2 separate regions of the Homo sapiens genome follow, and region 2 is linked to region 1. The links come from fine-mapping of genetic effects on gene expression. A gene starts in region 1. The other region holds a variant in brackets. All regions are shown on one strand. Distances are from middle to middle.

The links. PIP is the estimated chance that this variant, and not a neighbour inherited with it, causes the effect.
Region 2: its variant is fine-mapped to the expression of ULK3 in whole blood (TOPMed, PIP 0.98).

The regions. Positions count from the first base shown.
Region 1 is chr15:74,839,839-74,848,166 of GRCh38, forward strand. It overlaps ULK3 (unc-51 like kinase 3), which reads right to left and starts at 3,318. Exons shown (of 16, transcript NM_001099436.4): 1 at 3,166-3,318; 2 at 2,442-2,582; 3 at 2,237-2,357; 4 at 1,567-1,671; 5 at 660-803; 6 at 396-478. The coding sequence starts at 3,267. It overlaps SCAMP2 (secretory carrier membrane protein 2), which reads right to left. Exons shown (of 9, transcript NM_005697.5): 8 at 5,635-5,755; 9 at 3,892-5,379. The coding sequence ends at 5,245. MIR6882 (microRNA 6882) reads right to left here and starts at 869; the gene lies at 804-869. RefSeq lists enhancers at 2,312-2,837, 2,906-3,817 and a silencer at 3,080-3,799.
Region 2 is chr15:74,929,423-74,937,750 of GRCh38, forward strand. All of the region lies in intron 1 of COX5A (cytochrome c oxidase subunit 5A), which reads right to left. Among named protein-coding and RNA genes, the nearest start is that of COX5A, 4.5 kb to the right of the region's middle. The variant C/T (reference allele first, on the strand shown) is at 3,423.

The DNA of each region.
Region 1 (8,328 bases):
AACAGGATGGGTCAGGATGATGGAGCCAGCGGGGAGCGAGGCCTCCATCCCTGGGCTCCCGGTGCACCCTCGCTGGAGCCCTGAGCTGAGCTAGAATCGTGTTTCTGGGTCCTTATTTCCCTCCCTGGACTATGCTCCTAGGAAGGCTGGGCCTGGCTCTGCTTTGCATTCTCCCCACAAGGGCCTGCAAAATGGGCACTGTGCTGCCAGCTGTGGGCTGACCTGAGGCCCTGGGACAGCCTGGCACCTCGACTTCCAGCCTAGAACCTGCCCCTCCACCACAAAGGCAGCCTGGAGCCCATACTCCAGTCTCTGCAGGTCAGAACGAGGTCTAAACCCTCAGGGCCCTGACTCCCTCTGCCCCCCAGTGGTCGCTAAGGCCCTGCTAGACACACCTCGATGACCCGGTTGCTACGGATCTTCTCTTCCAGCTCCGAGAACGACCTGGAGGCAAAGGGGGGCTGCCCGAAGAGGGCTTCTGTGGAAGGGAGGCAGAGCGGAGGCTGGGAGGGAATGGGTCAAGCCTGGCCTGACGCCCCTCAGCAGGGGCCCTGGGCCAGCAGTCAGTTTTCATCAGAACCCTTCAGAAGTGGCCCAGAGAGGCCTTGCCTGAGGAAACTGTAGGCCTCAGGGTGAGAAGCAGGGAAAAGAGGTCTCACCATACAGGATGACCCCCATGGACCAGAGGTCCACGCGGGCGTCATACTGCCGCTGGCACACCATCTCGGGGGCCATGTAGAGGGGGGAGCCACGGAGCACGTGCTTCTCATCCCACGGGGACATGTGTTGTGCGAAACCAAAGTCTGCAGGCAAGAGGAGAGGCAGCAGGGCTTGAATTCCAGCTGCTTCAGCTCCTGACTTGTAAAGCCTCACCCCAGGCTCCTCTCCACCCTCCAGACCCGCCAGGATCAACCCTATTTCCAAGCCTCTGCTCATCATTAGGCTGGAACACCCTCCTATATCTGCCTCTGGGGTATAAAACCTACCCATCCTTCCCAGCTCCCTTGGGCACCTTTTCCTAGGAAGCCCACCTGATCACACCAGCTACCTGCATAAGCCCCCACCCTCTCACTGTCCCCCCAGGCTTAGGTTCTATCACAGTCTCTGGCCTCCAGTGTCAATTATCCAAATCTTATCAAGGGTCACCACCTCCTACTCCCCCACCACACCCCTCCTATGTGGCCACAGATGGAGTCACAGACTTGAGCCCCAATTCTGATGACAGACCAAGTCCTGTCCCTGCCCACAGAGGGATCCCTGATGCTTGTCACACGCTGAACCCTGGCACTGTTCCCAGATTGACCCCTAAACCTGGACACACAGTGAGTCCCAACTCTGGCCACAGACTGAGCCCTAACTCCACCCATTATGCTGCTGGACTTGAGCATGGGTAGCCTGAGAAAGCTTCCACCTTTTGATGACAGGGCCCAACCCCAGACTTCACGGCCTGTCACTCTTTGAGGACTCTATAGAGGGCTCCATAAGAACCAGGGCTGCTGAGTGAGCCCAGGCAGAGGGAGGCCTCTGCACTCTCCAAACCTCATCCCTGCTGTTTCAGACACAGACCTGCCAGTTTTAGGTGGGGCTTCTCCAAGGAGCTCAGTAGAATGTTCTGTGGCTTCAGATCCAGGTGAGAGATATTCCGTTCATGCAGGAATTGCAGGGCGCTAGCTGAGGAGCAGGACCCACGAAGAGAGACAGTTCAGAGCCCATTCCCGCCTGCCTCTCGCCTCCCCGGCTCACATCTGCCTCCTCAAGCCTGCACAACCCCAGTTCCTGCCTGGCTGGTCTAATGTTTTCCATATAAGCACCAAGATCACACCACTTCTAGGAGTTTGCCACCCCACCCGAGTGCCCACCCTCCTTCCCTCTGCCCCTTCACAAGTCTCCCCACCTCTCAGAAGCTTCTCTGGATGCCCCAGCCCTTGAGATCCTGCTCTTTTCCTTGGCACAGCACTTGAGTCCTACCTACAGGACTCTGGAATGTTCTACAAGGTCCTTATATTATGTTCTATGTATGGAAGCCTGAACACCCCACAGAGGGGTTACCCCCTCATCTCTCCCACAGCGTCCTTGAGCAAGGGTTGAGTGTATGAGATAAACAGGACCATAAAATTTCAGGCTGTGCAGGAGGCAGCTGCAATGCGTGCCAAGGCTCTAAGCCTGGGGGAGGGGTGGGATGGTGGGGGGCAGAGAACAAGGGACAGAGTGTCAGGCTGGTGTCACAGGCCTTTACCTAATTGCTGCATGAAGACACGCGCCACCTTCTCAGGCAGAATCCTGCGGGTATGGATGAAGCGAGACAGGTCGCCCCCTGCGCAAAACTCCATGATGAGGTAGATATTGTCACTGTCCCACTGTGTTTAGAGGCAGAGAGGCGGCCTGAAGAGAGTGTCCCTTCTCCAGCTCCCTTTGGCAGCGGCCCCGCCCCAGGCTCACACCTGAAAGTCTTTCAGCTGCACAATGTGGGGATGTCGAATGCCCTTGAGGATCTCAATCTCCGTGAGGAGGTTCTCCACCGATGCCTTGTTCAGACTTTTCTTGGCTACACACTTTATGGCTACCACTTCACGAGTGTCCTTCTGCGAGACAGGAGATTTGGGGACTCTGCCTTGAGGGGGCCAGGACCCTTGTCTGACTGGAAAGGCTCTATCTGGTTCCCTCTGTTCCCCCACCCCGCCCCTCCCCGGGTCTACCTACTGCACACCAGCACCGGGCTTCCCAGCTTTCCCTTGTGAGGCCAGTGAGGAATGCTGATTCTGGAATCCTGGCTTCCCGACACAGCCTCAGCCTGGTCTTCTCCAACCCTCGGCTAGCTGATCCATTTCTTTGCATTCTGGAGTGCTCCCGGCAGAGGCATGTCACTCAGGGTTCTAGAACCGCCCACTCTGCCTCCCAACTGGCTCCAGTCCCAGACTCCTCCCAGCCCACCAGGTAACCTGTTTTGAGCCTGTTCTTCAGCCACTGACCCTGCAGGTGGGTGCAGGTGCGCTCTTTAAGACCTAAGCGTGGCAGTCGGCTCCAACCTCCGCCGAGGGTCAGCTGGGGCGAGGCCGGCCTCCCGCCCCTAACTATTCCCACACTGTCGCTAACCTCTCAGAGTCTCCCCGGCCGGCACCAGCCGAGCTAGCTCGGGCGGGCACGGGGCCATCGGCCGGCACCCACCTTGGCGTAGGCCTTGTACACCGTGGCGTACGTGCCGCTGCCCAGGCGCTCGGTGAGGATGAAGCCGTCCAGGCGCGGGGGACCCCAGCCGGGCCCCGCCATTCCGGCCGCCTGCGCCCGCGCGGGCGCTTCCTCGCTGCGGGCGGCGGTTCCGGCGGGTTGCGGGGCGGGCCGAGCACTGGGTGGCTCCACGCTGCCCCCAGCGCCGCCCGCCGGAAATGCAGCGCGCATCGGGGACGCGGATCCGCCCGGCTCCCGGCGCCCCTCCCCTGTCTCTGGGCCTCGCCGGGTCACGCGCCCCGCCAGTTCCTGCAGGGCCCACGTGGGGATACGGAGGCCCCGCGAGCCTAGAAGTTAACAACGGAGGACGGCCGGCGTGGTCTCCGGGGACTCCTAGCGGGCGCAGAGGCGTCTAGAGATCGCCCACGTGAGGGCGCGGGCGGCGGAGCGGGCGTGTGTGGGGGCGACGGCGTCCGGGAGGCTCCCAGGGCCCCTCCCCAGGACCCGCAGCTCTGAAAGGAGAGCTACTGGCACGAGAAGGCGCCTTTGGAAGAGGCCGCGTTGGCTTCCCAGGCCTCCCAGCTGCTTTTCACTTTTCTGAGGAAGGGCCTTGACCTATTTATTGCATCTTAACTGTCCCCGCTCTCCAATCTTAGCAGCGGCGCCCAGCCCCTAATCCTGTGGGCTGCCCCGTCCTCCCAAGTCCACCAGACATGTGGACCCGTGTTGTCTGAAAATGTTTTTATTTTTACTTAAGCACAAAAATTGAGACGTAACATATACATTTGTACATAGAGGGGAAAAAATACCAGAAAGGAGTTCATAAAACCCCAGCCGCTGCCAGTATCATTCAGTGGCTGGGGCCTGCGGCTGTCTCGGGCCCAGAGCCGGAGGCTAGTTTTGTGGGAAGGCACCCCAGTCCACACACCCACTCGGCAGCCTCGAGGGACAGGGTGCTGGTTTTAAGGGTGGACTCCTACGTGTCCCATCACAGTGACACACCCCCCAGGGTGTGAACCAGACTCCACTGGGTATTAGGGGGCCCTCCGAGAGATGGCTTATCAGTCCCTGCTGAGGGATGCGGTTCTGGACTGGCTGGCCCTGCCCTTCCTGAAAGTCTGGATGCTGCTGATGGGGAGCATGGGCGGGGCAGGTGGCATCTGAGGCAGAGACAAAGGCAGCCGTCCCTCGGTTCGGGGAGGGGGGGGGGTAGTCACAGCAAACAGGGCCAAACCAACCACACCAGGACAGGCAGACCCCACCCTCCTAGAAGACGCTGGACGCTAGGCAGGACAGCTTGGGGTCAGTGTCCTTGGTCCCTTCCAGTCCCCAAATCCCAACCAACGGCATTGTACATTCAGAAAGTCTGAAGAGAGTAAGGCTCAGCAAGGGGAGGGCTCCAGAGGGCTCAAAGTGCCATCCCCTGCAGGAGGGTGCAGGGGGATAAAGGGCTATTAATCCGTTTCTCAGGAACACGAGGCAGGGAAGAGCTTAAGGCAACCAGCCTTCTCTGGATCCGTTTATGAGGCAGAGAAGAGCTTGAGGCAACCAGCCTTCTCTGGAAGCCTGGAGACCACTGGAGTGACCTGGGGAACAGATCTGTCCACCAGAACCTGTGAGAGGCTTATTCCCAGCCCAGGCAGGAAGGACTGGGCTGTGTCTAAGAAGCCAGATTCAGGCCAGGCCTGCAGGGTGGGGGAGTCAAGGCCCAGGACCCTGGCAGAAAGCTCCAGCTGGGATGGGCCCAGGTCAGCCTGTGATCCCAACTGTGTGGGGGTGTCTGTGTGTGCACAGGACGAAGAGAACTTCAGTCCCACTGCTTCCAGAGACAAAAGAATCCTACCAAACCATCACCAGAGAAGGAAAGAGAGCTTTGTTTTTTTTTGTACATAGAGGGGGAAAAAATTCCCTGTCCCTCCCGTTCCAGGGAGAGCTGGTCGCTGAGGGAGGAGGAAGAGCCACGGCAAGAACCCTGCCAGGTCTGTGCTGGGCACAACCACCACCACATAAGGCACCCACGGAAAGTGCAGCTCAGAAGGCAGGCGAGAGAAAGGCTGAGGGGGAGAGAAGAGAGGAGGACTAATTCCCCTGGAAGGCTCCTTGGGCAGCAGATGAAGCAGCTCTGTGGAAGGTTCTGCTGCTGAAGATGCCCTGGGAAAACTCCTCCTGGGCCTGCTGGAAGCTGGCCCCTGTCCGTCGGTAGAGGGAGTGCACCTGGCGAAGAGGGGTGGGGTGAGAGAAGCCTGTCCTTTGGGCCCACCAGGAAGCCAGCCATCCAGGTTATACTCCCAAAGGGGTCACCAGAAGCCTGGCACTGCCTGACCCCCCACCCAGATCCCTGGAGAAAGGTACTGGACCTTTGGGGGCCTAGGATGCCCAACTGCAGTGGTGAAAAACATCTCGTGGCAAGGGCAGGAAACGGTTGCCTGCCTCCTCCCATTTGCTGTCAGCCCTGCCCACACCACTCACCCGCTGCAGGAGGAAGACTGAGAGCACGGCACAGAGGGTGAAGAAGCCAGCCACCACCATCATGATGACTGATATGGCCAGGGAATGATTATCCAGTGTAGACAGGGCTGCAATCCAACCGCTATAAAGGGAAGAAGAGGCCAGAGGGAGCAAAGTGGGAGTGGGCTCCAAAAGTCAGCATAAGGGGCTCTTCTCCAAGTGGCTGCTGTGTCCTGACCATCACCTTGGCATCTCCCCACAGCACAGGGAGCCCTGTGAGCCAGAAGCCCTTGGCCTGTGAGGCCAGACCTCCGTGAAGGCTGACAGGCCCACACTACCCCATTCACAAGGGGAATCTTCTGGTTATGTGAGGTCTGAAAGGGAGGATGTGGTTGCTGCCTTCACAGAGTCAGAAGTAGCACCGGGCTGGGTGCTATGGCTCTCACCTGTAATCCCAGCACTTTGGGAGGCTGAGGCAGGAGGATCGCTTGAGCCCAAGAGTTCAAGACCAACCTGGGCAACAGAGGGAGGCCCTGTCTCCATAAAAAATAAAAAAAGGCCAGGTTCGTGCCTGTAATCCCAGCACTTTGGGAGGCCAAGGAAGGCAGATCACTTGAGGTCAGGAGTTTGAGACCAGCCTGGCCAACATGGAGAAACCTTGCTCTACTAAAAATACAAAAATTAGCTGCGCGTGGTTGCACACGCCTGCAATCCCAGCTACTCGGGAGACTGAGGCAGGAGAATCACTTGAACCTGGAAGGTGCAGGCTGCAGTGAGCCGAGATCATGCCATTGTACTCCAGCCTAGGTGACAGGGCGAGACTCCAACTCAAAAAAAAAAAAAATTAGCTGGCTGTGGTCATACATGCCTATGCTCCCAGCTACTTGGGATGCTGAGGTAGGAGGATCACTTGAGCCCGTGAGGTTCAAGGCTGCAGTGAGCTGTGATCACGCCACGGCACTCCAGCCTGAGCAACAGAGTGAGACCCTGTCTCCAAAAAAAAAAAAAAAAGAAAAGAAAAAAGAAAAAGGGCTGGGCACAGTGGCTCAAGCCCGTAATCCCAACACTTTGGGAGGCCAAGATGGGCGGATCACGAGGTCAGCAGATCGAGACCATCCTGGCTAACACAGTGAAACCCCATCTCTACTAAAAATACAAAAAATGAGCCAGGCATGGTGGCAGGCACCTACATAGTCCCAGTTACTCGGGAGGCTGAGGCAGGAGAATGGCGTGAACCTGGGAGGCGGAGCTTGCAGTGAGCAGAGATCGCGGCACTGCACTCCAGTCTGGGCAACAGAGACTCCATCTCAAAAAATAATTAATTAAAAAGGTAGCACTGGGCCGGGCCTTTTTCTGCTGCTTTGGGGGTGGGGAGTATGGAAAGCGTGGCTGCTCACTCCTGAGGACCCACCTTCTGTGAAGGAGGATCACTGGCCAACTTGCTGTCACCTGTCTGAGCCCCATGTCCTCATCTGTAAAAGGGATATCCTCATATTTCTTGACATCAAAACTTACTACAAAGCTACAGTCACTAAAATAGTGTAGGACTGGCATAAACATAGACATATAGATCAATAGATCAATGGAATAGAACTGAGATTCCAGAAATAAACCCATACACCTATTGTCAGTTAATTTTTTTTTTTTTTTTTTTTTTTGAGATTGAGTCTTGCTCTGTAGCCCAGGCTGGAGAACAGTGGTGTGATCCCGGCTCACTGCAACCTCCACCTCCCGGGTTCAAGTGATTCTTCTGCCTCAGCCTCCCAAGTAGCTGGGATTATAGGCACCTACCAATGCGCCTGGCCAATTTTTGTACTCTCTAGAAACAAGGTTTTGCCATGTTGGCCAGGCTGGTCTCAAACTCCTTCCTGACCTCAGGTGATCCACCCGCCTTGGCCTCCCAAAGTGCTGGGATTACAGGCATGAGCCACCGCACCCAGCCAACTCAAGCCTTCTGATTCCCAGTACAGGTGCAAACGGCAGTCATGAATCACAGCTTTTCTACCAGGGTCTTACTTAGGTAAGGAGTAATGAAATTGGGTCACTGGTCAAAAGGGACCAGATTAACAACAGCAGGGCAAGAAGCATGAGGGGTGGTGGGAGGGCAGCGTGCACTTGTTTGGAGGGCAAGGGGAGGCAACCTTTCTCTCCCCACTGCTCTGGACTTGCCAGCTCTGCCAGAGGGAGGGGACCAAAATAGCACCGCCCTTCCAGGCTCAGGCTGTCAGCCAAGTGCCAGTCTGACCTTTCTGCAATGCTCCCTGTGCACTGGGGCAGAAAGGAAAACATCAGCCATCAGCTTTTCTTTTGAGATTAATTTTGAGCTGAGGACTGAGGTACCCTGGAAACTCAAACCAGCCGTATGCTCAAAGAGGGCAGCCAGAAGAAGCCTGTCCAGGGGAGGTGAGGGAACCGTCTCCTTAAGTTACAAGGCATCTGGAAAAAGTTGCAGCTCAGAGTCTGCAAAGGCCTGGGCATCCATCAGCTTTCAGGAGGGTGTGGCAGGAGAAAAGGAAGAGGCTGCAATCCAGTGCAGGACACTGTCATGGTAGCCTAAAGAGTCAAGCCAAGTTCACCCACAATACCCTGGAAAGTGGAGAGCAAGGGAAGATAGTGTCTTTTTTTTTTTTTTTTGATACAGGATCTCACTCTGTCACCCAGGCTGGTGTCCAGTGGTGCAATCATGGCTCACTGCAGCCTCAACCTCCTGGGCTC
Region 2 (8,328 bases), 90 kb after region 1:
AAAAAGTATTACATAGGCATGTTTATACTTTTCTCCCTAATGTATAATACTCGCTTGAAATTATTAACAGTGGTTCCCTCTGATTTTAAATTAACAGTGATTATCATGGGACGTAAAAACTACTTTATATACTTCCATATTGTTTGAATTTTTACACATAACCAGAGTATTAATTCCTAAGTAAAAATGTCCCAGGTGGGCATAGTGGGGCACACACCTGTAGTGCCAGCTACTCAGAGGCTGAGGCAGGAAGATTACCCGAGCCCAGGAGTTCAAGGTCGTAGGGTGCTAACAATATGACAGAACCTGATAAGATAGCCATTGCATTCCAGCCTGGGCAACACAGCGACACCCCACTTCTAAAAACTAAGAATAGGCCAGGCGCAGTGGCTCACGCCTGTAATCCCAGCACTTTGGGAGGCCGAGGCAGGCGGATCACGAGGTCAGGAGATCAAGACCATCCTGGCTAACACGGTGAAACCCCGTCTCTACTAAAAATACAAAAAATTAGCCAGGTGTGGTGGCGGGCGGCTGTAGTCCCAGCTACTCGGGAGGCTGAGGCAGGAGAATGGCGTGAACCTGGACGGCGGAGGTTGCAGTGAGCTGAGATCACACCACTGCACTCCAGCCTGGGCGACAGAGCAAGACTCCAACTCAAAAAACAAACAAACAAACAAAAACAAAAACAAAAACAAAAACTAAAAAACTAAGACTAGGCCGGGCGCAGTGGCTCACGCCTGTAATCCCAGCACTTTGGGAGGCTGAGGCGGGTGGATCAAGAGGTCAAGAGATCAAGGCCATCCTGGCCAACATGGTGAAACCCCATCTCTACTAAAAGTATAAAAATTAGCTGGGTGTGGTGGCGCGTGCCTGTAGTCCCAGCAACTCGGGAGGATGAAGCAGGGGAATTGCTTGAACCCAGGAGGCGGAGGTTGCAGTGAGCCAAGATTGTGCCACTGCACTCCAGCCTGGCGACAGAGCGAGACTCCGCCTCAAAAAAAAAAAAAAAGACAATAAACAACAACAACAAAAAAAACCAAAAAAGCAACAAAAAAAAAAAACTAAGAGCAATACTAATGTCCATTCAAGTTCTTTTTTTTGAGACAGGCTCTCGCTCTGTTGTTGCCTAGGCTGGAGTGTAGTGGCGCAATCACAGCTCACTGCAGCCTCAAATTCTTTGGGCTCAAGCATTCCTTCCTCCCTTGGCTCCCAAAGTGCTGGGATTACAGGTGTGAGCCACCAGCCCTGGCACCATTCAAGTTCTTAAATAAACTTATATACTTCATTCACACATTAAAAAAAAAAAAATCTCGGGCCGGGCTTGGTGGCTCACGCCTGTAATCCCAGCACTTTGGGAGGCCGAGATGGGCAGATCACCAGGTCAGGATATCGAAACCATCCTGGCTAACACGGTGAAACCCCGTCTCTACTAAAAATACAAAAAATTAGCCAGGTGTGGTGGCGGGCGCCTGTGGTCCCACCTAGTTGGGAGGCTGAGGCAGGAGAATGGCGTGAACCCAGGAGGCGGAGCTTGCAGTGAGCAGAGATCACGCCACTGCACTCCAGCCTGGGCAACAGAGCGAGACTCTGTCTCAAAAAAAAAAAAAAAAAAAAAAAAAAAAAATTCTCATGTTATTATATTCCAAAATAAATTACACATCCTGACAAATTACACATACAAATTGCTTTATCAAACTACAGCCCCTTCCCAAAATATTCTGATAAATCCCCTAAGGGAACGTACACTCTAATCTACACCTAATGCAAAATAATACTGTTTTACTAGGAATATTTTGGGCTGGGCGCAGTGGCTCACACCTGTAATGCCAGCACTTTGGGAGGCTGAGACTGGTGGATCACCTGAGTTCAGGAGTTTGTGACCAGCCTGATCAACATTGTGAAACTCCGTCTCTACTAAAAATACAAAAATTAGCTGGGCGTGATGACGGGCGCCTGTAATCTCAGCTACGCGAGAGACTGAGGCAGGAGAATCACTCGAACCCAGGAGGCGGAGGTTGAGGTGAGGTGAGATGATGCCATTGTACTCCAGCCTGGGCGACACAGCAAGACTCTGTCTCAAAGAAAAAAAGAAATGATGTTTACATAGAGTACTGTATGAAAAGCATTTCCATTTTTTTTTTTTTTTTTTGAGATCGAGTCTCACTCTGTCACCCAGGCTGAAATGCAGTGGAACAATCTCAGCTCACTGCAACCTCTGCCTCCTGGATTCAAGTGATTCTCCTGCCTCAGCCTTCTGAGTAGCTGAGACTACAGGCGAGCGCCACTAAGCTTGGCTAAGTTTTGTATTTTGAGTAGAGACGGGATTTCACCACATTGCCCAGGCTGGTCTCGAACTCCTGACCTCCAGTGATCTGCCCACCTCAGCCTCCCAAAGTGCTGGGATTACAGACGCGAGCCACTGCACCCAGCCCCATTTTTTCTTTCTTCTTGTCAAATGGACACTGAATTGAGTTTGGAAATCTGAATTCCTTCTGAACAGCCTCTGGAACAGGTAGGGGGATAGGCGGAGGCAGAAAATTTTATCTTTGGGTATTGAATGCAGCACAACCTAGCACTCAGATACCTCTAGGCTCTTCGCTCTCTCTGTTTGACCCTGGAAAATTAACTTAAGTTTATTTTCCTTATCTGTAAAATGGGGACGCTACCCCCCTTAGCAGATTATGAAGATTAAATGTGAAAACAGGTAGGTTAACACTATGCACTGGTAAGTATTAAACAAATGGTAGCTATAAACTAACCCTTATCTAAAAACGTCTTAGTTGTCTATTTATAGAAATCATAACTTAAAGAAATGAAACCTATCTCAAATCACATTTCCTACTACCTGTATTAGATAAGTGTGGTGTAACTTCCAGTTGTTTAAGGCTTAACATATTTTTATTTATTTACTTTTAGAGATGGGGGTCTTGATATGTTGCCCAGGGTGGTCTTAAACTCCTAGCCTCAAGCAATCCTACCACTCCCAAAATACTAGAATTACAGGTGTGAGCCACCATGCCCAGCCTTAACATACATATATATATATTTTTAAAAACTTCACCCAGAAACCTCTCAACATTGTTGTTCTAAGAACACTGAAATTTAAACATTAGTAATATCCTATATATCTTTAATGCAGTAACTGGCAGGAGGAAGAGTAGCAAAAAAACGAAGCAGAAAAGATCTTCCCAGAGACCTAAATTACCTACATAATCCAAGCCCAGAATGAAGTGGAACATGTACATAAATGGACTAGAAGTGAACACGTTTTAATTTCTTTTTTTTTTTTTTTGAGACAGAGTCTCACCCTGTCGCCCAGGCTGGAGTGCAATGGCACGATTTCGGCTCACTGCAACCTCCACCTCCCGGGTTCAAGTGATTCTCCTGCCTTAGCCTCCCAAGTAGCTGGGATTACAGGCATG[C/T]GCCACCATGTCAGGCTAATTTTTTGTATCTTTAGTAGACACAAAGTTTCACCATGTTAGTCAGGCTGGTCTCGAACTCTTGACCTCATGATCTGCCTGCCTCGGCCTCCCAAAGTGCTGGGATAACAGGCATGAGCCACGGTGCCCAGCCTTAATTTCTACAACAAGAAAAAAATGGATCTCTACACCTAAATATGTCTGGTAAGTATGAACATTTAATCAAAACTACGTGGATATTTAATAAGTCTTACAAGACTAATATTCAAATTTAATATATCAGAAAACAAGGCCAGGTGCGGTGGCTCACACCTGTAATCCCAGCACTTTGGGAGGCTGAGGCAGGCAGATCACTTGAGGCCAGGAGTTCAAGACCAGCCTGGCCAACATGGTGAAACCCTGTCTCTACTAAAATACAAAAAATTAGCCAGGCGTGGTGGCACACCCCTGTAGTCCCAGCTACTTGGAATGCTGAAGGAGGAGAATAGCTTGAACCCAGGGAGGTTGCAGTGAGCCAAGATCGTGCCACTGCATTCCAGCCTGGGCGACAGAGCAAGACTCCGTCTCAAAAAAAAAAATATCTATCTATCTATCTATCTATCTATCTATCTATCTATCTATCTATGTAAAAACATAGATTAGAACAACCATCTAATGCACTATTATCAAGAACTTAGGGCCAGATGCAGTGGCACTAGCCTCGGAGACAGAGTGAGACCCTGTCTCAAAAAAGAAAAAATTATAAGCCACCTCTTCAAAAACTAAAGCTAGCCTTAACTGAATACTGAAAGTGCAAGTATAAAATGATACAATCACTTTGGAAGACGGTTTAAGCAGTTTCTTATCAAGTTAAACACAAACCTACCATATAACACAGTAATTCCACTCCTAAGTATTTACCCAATGAAAGGTCTATGTACTCCTTCCCCAGAGGTAATTACCTGTCCCATCCACAACAGTGCTTCATGATAAGCAATTCGTTTTGTTCACTGCTGGGCATGGATTTGACTACATGAGTGCTAGGCTTTGTTTCCTAACTGTGAATAAGATGACCACCAACAGCAAATCCAAGTCAAGGAGATCACCACCTTCAAGGATTTGATCATATGTCTTCTGGAAGCCAAATTACAAACTGGTTGTATTCCAAAAAGTCTTTTATAAAACAGAACTAGAACTTTGAGAGGCCAAGGCAGGATCGCTTGATGCCAGGACTGAGAGACCAGCTTGGGCAACAAAGACAGACCTCCATTCTCCACAAAAAACTTAAAAAATTAGCGGGGTTTGGTGGTCCCAGCTACTCAGGAGGCTGAGGCGGGAGGATCCCTTGAGCCCAGGGCAACAAGGCTGCAGTGAGCTATGACTGCGCCACTGCACTCTAGCCTAGGTGATAGAGCAACACTCTATATCAAACAAATTAAAATAAATAAAAATTTAAAAACCCATACATCCCTTTCTGAAGGGCTAAAACAGACTCTCCCCACGTGATTTAAATTTTTTTTTTTTTTTTGAGATGGAGTCTCACTCTGTCGCCCAGGCGGGAGTGCAGTGGCGCAATCTCAGCTCACTGCAAGCTCCGCCTCCCAGGTTCACGCCATTCTCCTATCTCAGCCTTCCCAGCAGCTGGGACTACAGGCACTCGCCACCACGCCCGGCTAATTTTTTTGTATTTTTAGTAGAGACGGGGTTTCACCGCGTTAGCCAGGATGGTCTCGATCTCCTGACATTGTGATCCGCCCGCCTCAGCCTACCAAAGTGCTGGGATTACAGGCGTGAGCCACCATGCCCGGCCATGATTTAAATTATATTGTTAAATCCAATAATGGGTAAAGCAGGATCTATTCTATTAGCTATGGACACATCCCCCACATGCTTAACTTTTTTTAGGTAAACTCTACTAGCATTCTCTGCCCCACACACCCCACCCCACTTAAGAACAGGATCTCCACCTAGTATTGAAGCTTGAAAGGCAAATTATTTTGGAAAACAATTACTCAGAGCTTTTACGTAACCTGAAAGTCCCAAAGTAAGAAAAAAGAAGCAGCTGTGAAAAATGAGGACATTTTTAGGGCTTCATCCTAAAAAGCTATTTCTAACACTGCTTTTTGGCATTCAGTTAAGCACTCCATTTAAAAACAAAAAAGGCTAACATATATAGAAAAATAAAAGGGCTCATTGATCCTTTGGGTTTAAATTTAGTTAAATCGGATAGTTTTCCATTTAATAAATAATCAACCCTGACAGGCCCAAAGAATGAACACTTTGGTGGTGGTAACTGTAGGAATGAGGGCACATTAACGAGTTACTGAGGCTGGGTGCAGTGGCTCTCGCTTGTAATCCCAGCACTTTGGGAGGCTGAGGTGGAAGGATGGCTTGAGCCCAGGAGGTTAAGGCTGCAGTGAGCTGTGCCAACTGCACTGCAGCCTGCATGACAGAGCGAGACCCTGTCTCAAAAACAAAAACAAAAACAAAACAAAACCACAACAACAGAAGAAGAAAAAGAAAAATTTGGCTGGGCATGGTGGCTCACACCTGTAATCCCAGCACTTTGGAAGGTGGGAGGAGGGAGGCACTCCTGAGCCCAGGAGTCCCCAGACCAGCCTGTTTCTACGGAAAATAAAACTGGTGGCGCACCCTTGTGGTCCCAGCTACTTGGAAGGTGGAGGCAGGAGGATCAGTTGAGTCCCAGGAGGTCAAGGCTGCAGTGAGCTGTGATGGTGCCACTGCACTCCAGCCTAGGCAACACAGTGAGACTATCACCAAAAAAAAAAAATAAATAAATAAATAAATAAAAAATTTTTTTTTTGAGATGGCATGATTTCGGCTCACTGCAAACCTCTGCCTCCCGGGTTCAAGCAATTCTAATGCCTCAGCCTCCCAAGAAGCTGGGACCACGTGTGCGTGCCACCACACCCGGCTAATTTTTGTATTTTTAGTAGATACTGGGTTTCGCCATGTTCAGGCTGGTCTGGAACTTCTGATCTCAGGTAATCTACCCGCCACAACCTCCCAAAGTGCTGGGATTACAGGCGTGAGCCACCGTGTCCGGCTGAAAAATGTAAATTGTACTGTTACTTTAGCAAAACACAAAATCTAAACAAACATCAGGATGGCCCAAACATAACTATAAGAAACAAAAATGGTTCCACCATTAAAAAGGAGTCAGTTTCGGCCAGGTGTGGTGTCTCACGCCTGTAATCCCAGCACTTTGGGAGGCTGAGGCAGACGGATCACCTGACCTCACGAGCTCGAAACCAGCATGGCCAACATGGTGAAACCCCATCTCTACTAAAAACACAAAAAGTAGCCGGGCATGGTGGCAGGTGCCTGTAACCCCAGCTACTCCGGAGGCTGAGGCAGGAGAATCGCTTGAGCCAAGACCGTGCTATTGCACTCCAGCCTGGGCAACAAGAACGAAACTCTGTCTCAAGAAAAAACAAAACAAAACAAAACAAAACAAAAACAAACAAACAAACAAAAAAAAACAAGGAGTCAGTTTCCCAAGATGGACTTTGGTTTCCTTTTCTATAAAATAAAATGGCTTCCACGATCTCTAAAGTACACTCTAGGTTGGCTGCAGTGGCTCATGCCTATAATCCCAAACTTTGGGAGGCTGAGGTGGGAGGATCACCTGAGCCCAGGAGTTCAAGCCCAGCCTGGGCAACATAGGGACACTCCGTCTCTAATTTAAAAATAAATAAATAAACAAAAATAAAGTACCCTCCAGCCTTATGGTTCTACGACAAATGATAAAAGTCTAAAATGAATGAAGCAAAACATATTCTTTTTTTTTTTTTTTTTTTTTTGAGACGGAGTCTCGCTCTGTCGGCCAGGCTGGAGTGCAATGGCGCGATTTCGGCTCACTGCAACCTCCGCCTCTCAGGTTCAAGCGATTCTTGTGCTTCAGCCTCCCGAGTAGCTGGGATTACAGGCGCCCACCACCACACCCAGCTAAATTTTTTGTATTTTTAGTACAGACAGGGTTTCACCATGTTGGCCAGGCTGGTCTTGAACTCCTGACCTCAGGTGATCCGCCCGCCTCGGCCTACCAAAGTGCTGGGATTACAGGCATGAGCCACCGCGCCCGGCTGAGTTCTTTTTTTAATTTTTAACTTCAGCATACCCTGAAACGAGTTTCTGAGTTCTTATGTTTAAATACGCATGCATAGTTGCCAGTGATGCAGGTTCAAAAATAAAATATAATATGCATGCATAGAAGCTAAATTTCACGGACCAAGATCGAAGTGCAATTACTGTAATTATTCTATGGTGGTGGACTCAAAACCTCCCAGCACACATATAAAGGGAAGGAAAATAGACAAAAATCAGAAGCACGTCTCATACTCCAGCAATCAGGCTTCTATTACAAAGGGGAAAAAACACGAAGCGTTCCTATGCTTGTAAAACCCAGTATTCCTGTGTCTGTGACATTCAGTTTTCAAAAGAGTGATATTTTTATCATAAGCCCTATCAAAACTCTGGCTATCTTCCGGAGATCAGGAAACAACCACACACTTCCATCTATTTTAAACGTGGAAGAATTAGAACGTGGCACAGCAGACCCTAAAAATGATGGAAAAGGCTGTGAAGGTGACACACTAATCGCTAACCGAGAAATGCCTGATTGAAAAGTATAATCGTGTGTCCCATACGGAAGTATATTGTGTCCTCGGACCCCAAGCGGCGTGCCCGGAGGCTCAATGTCACCTTCGCCGAGGCGCTGCAGGCCGGCGGCGGCCACTCTCGGTCAGGTGGCCGCAGGGTCGGCGCTGGGGCAGGGTCATGGCCCGGGAACCGAAGGGGAGCGCTGCGTCCCCTCCTCGGCGCCCACAGCAGGTCCACATCTGACCTGTCCGCGGTGGCACAGCCAGGAAGTTGCGCGGGGGGAGGCCCCGGGGGCGCGCTTTCAGGT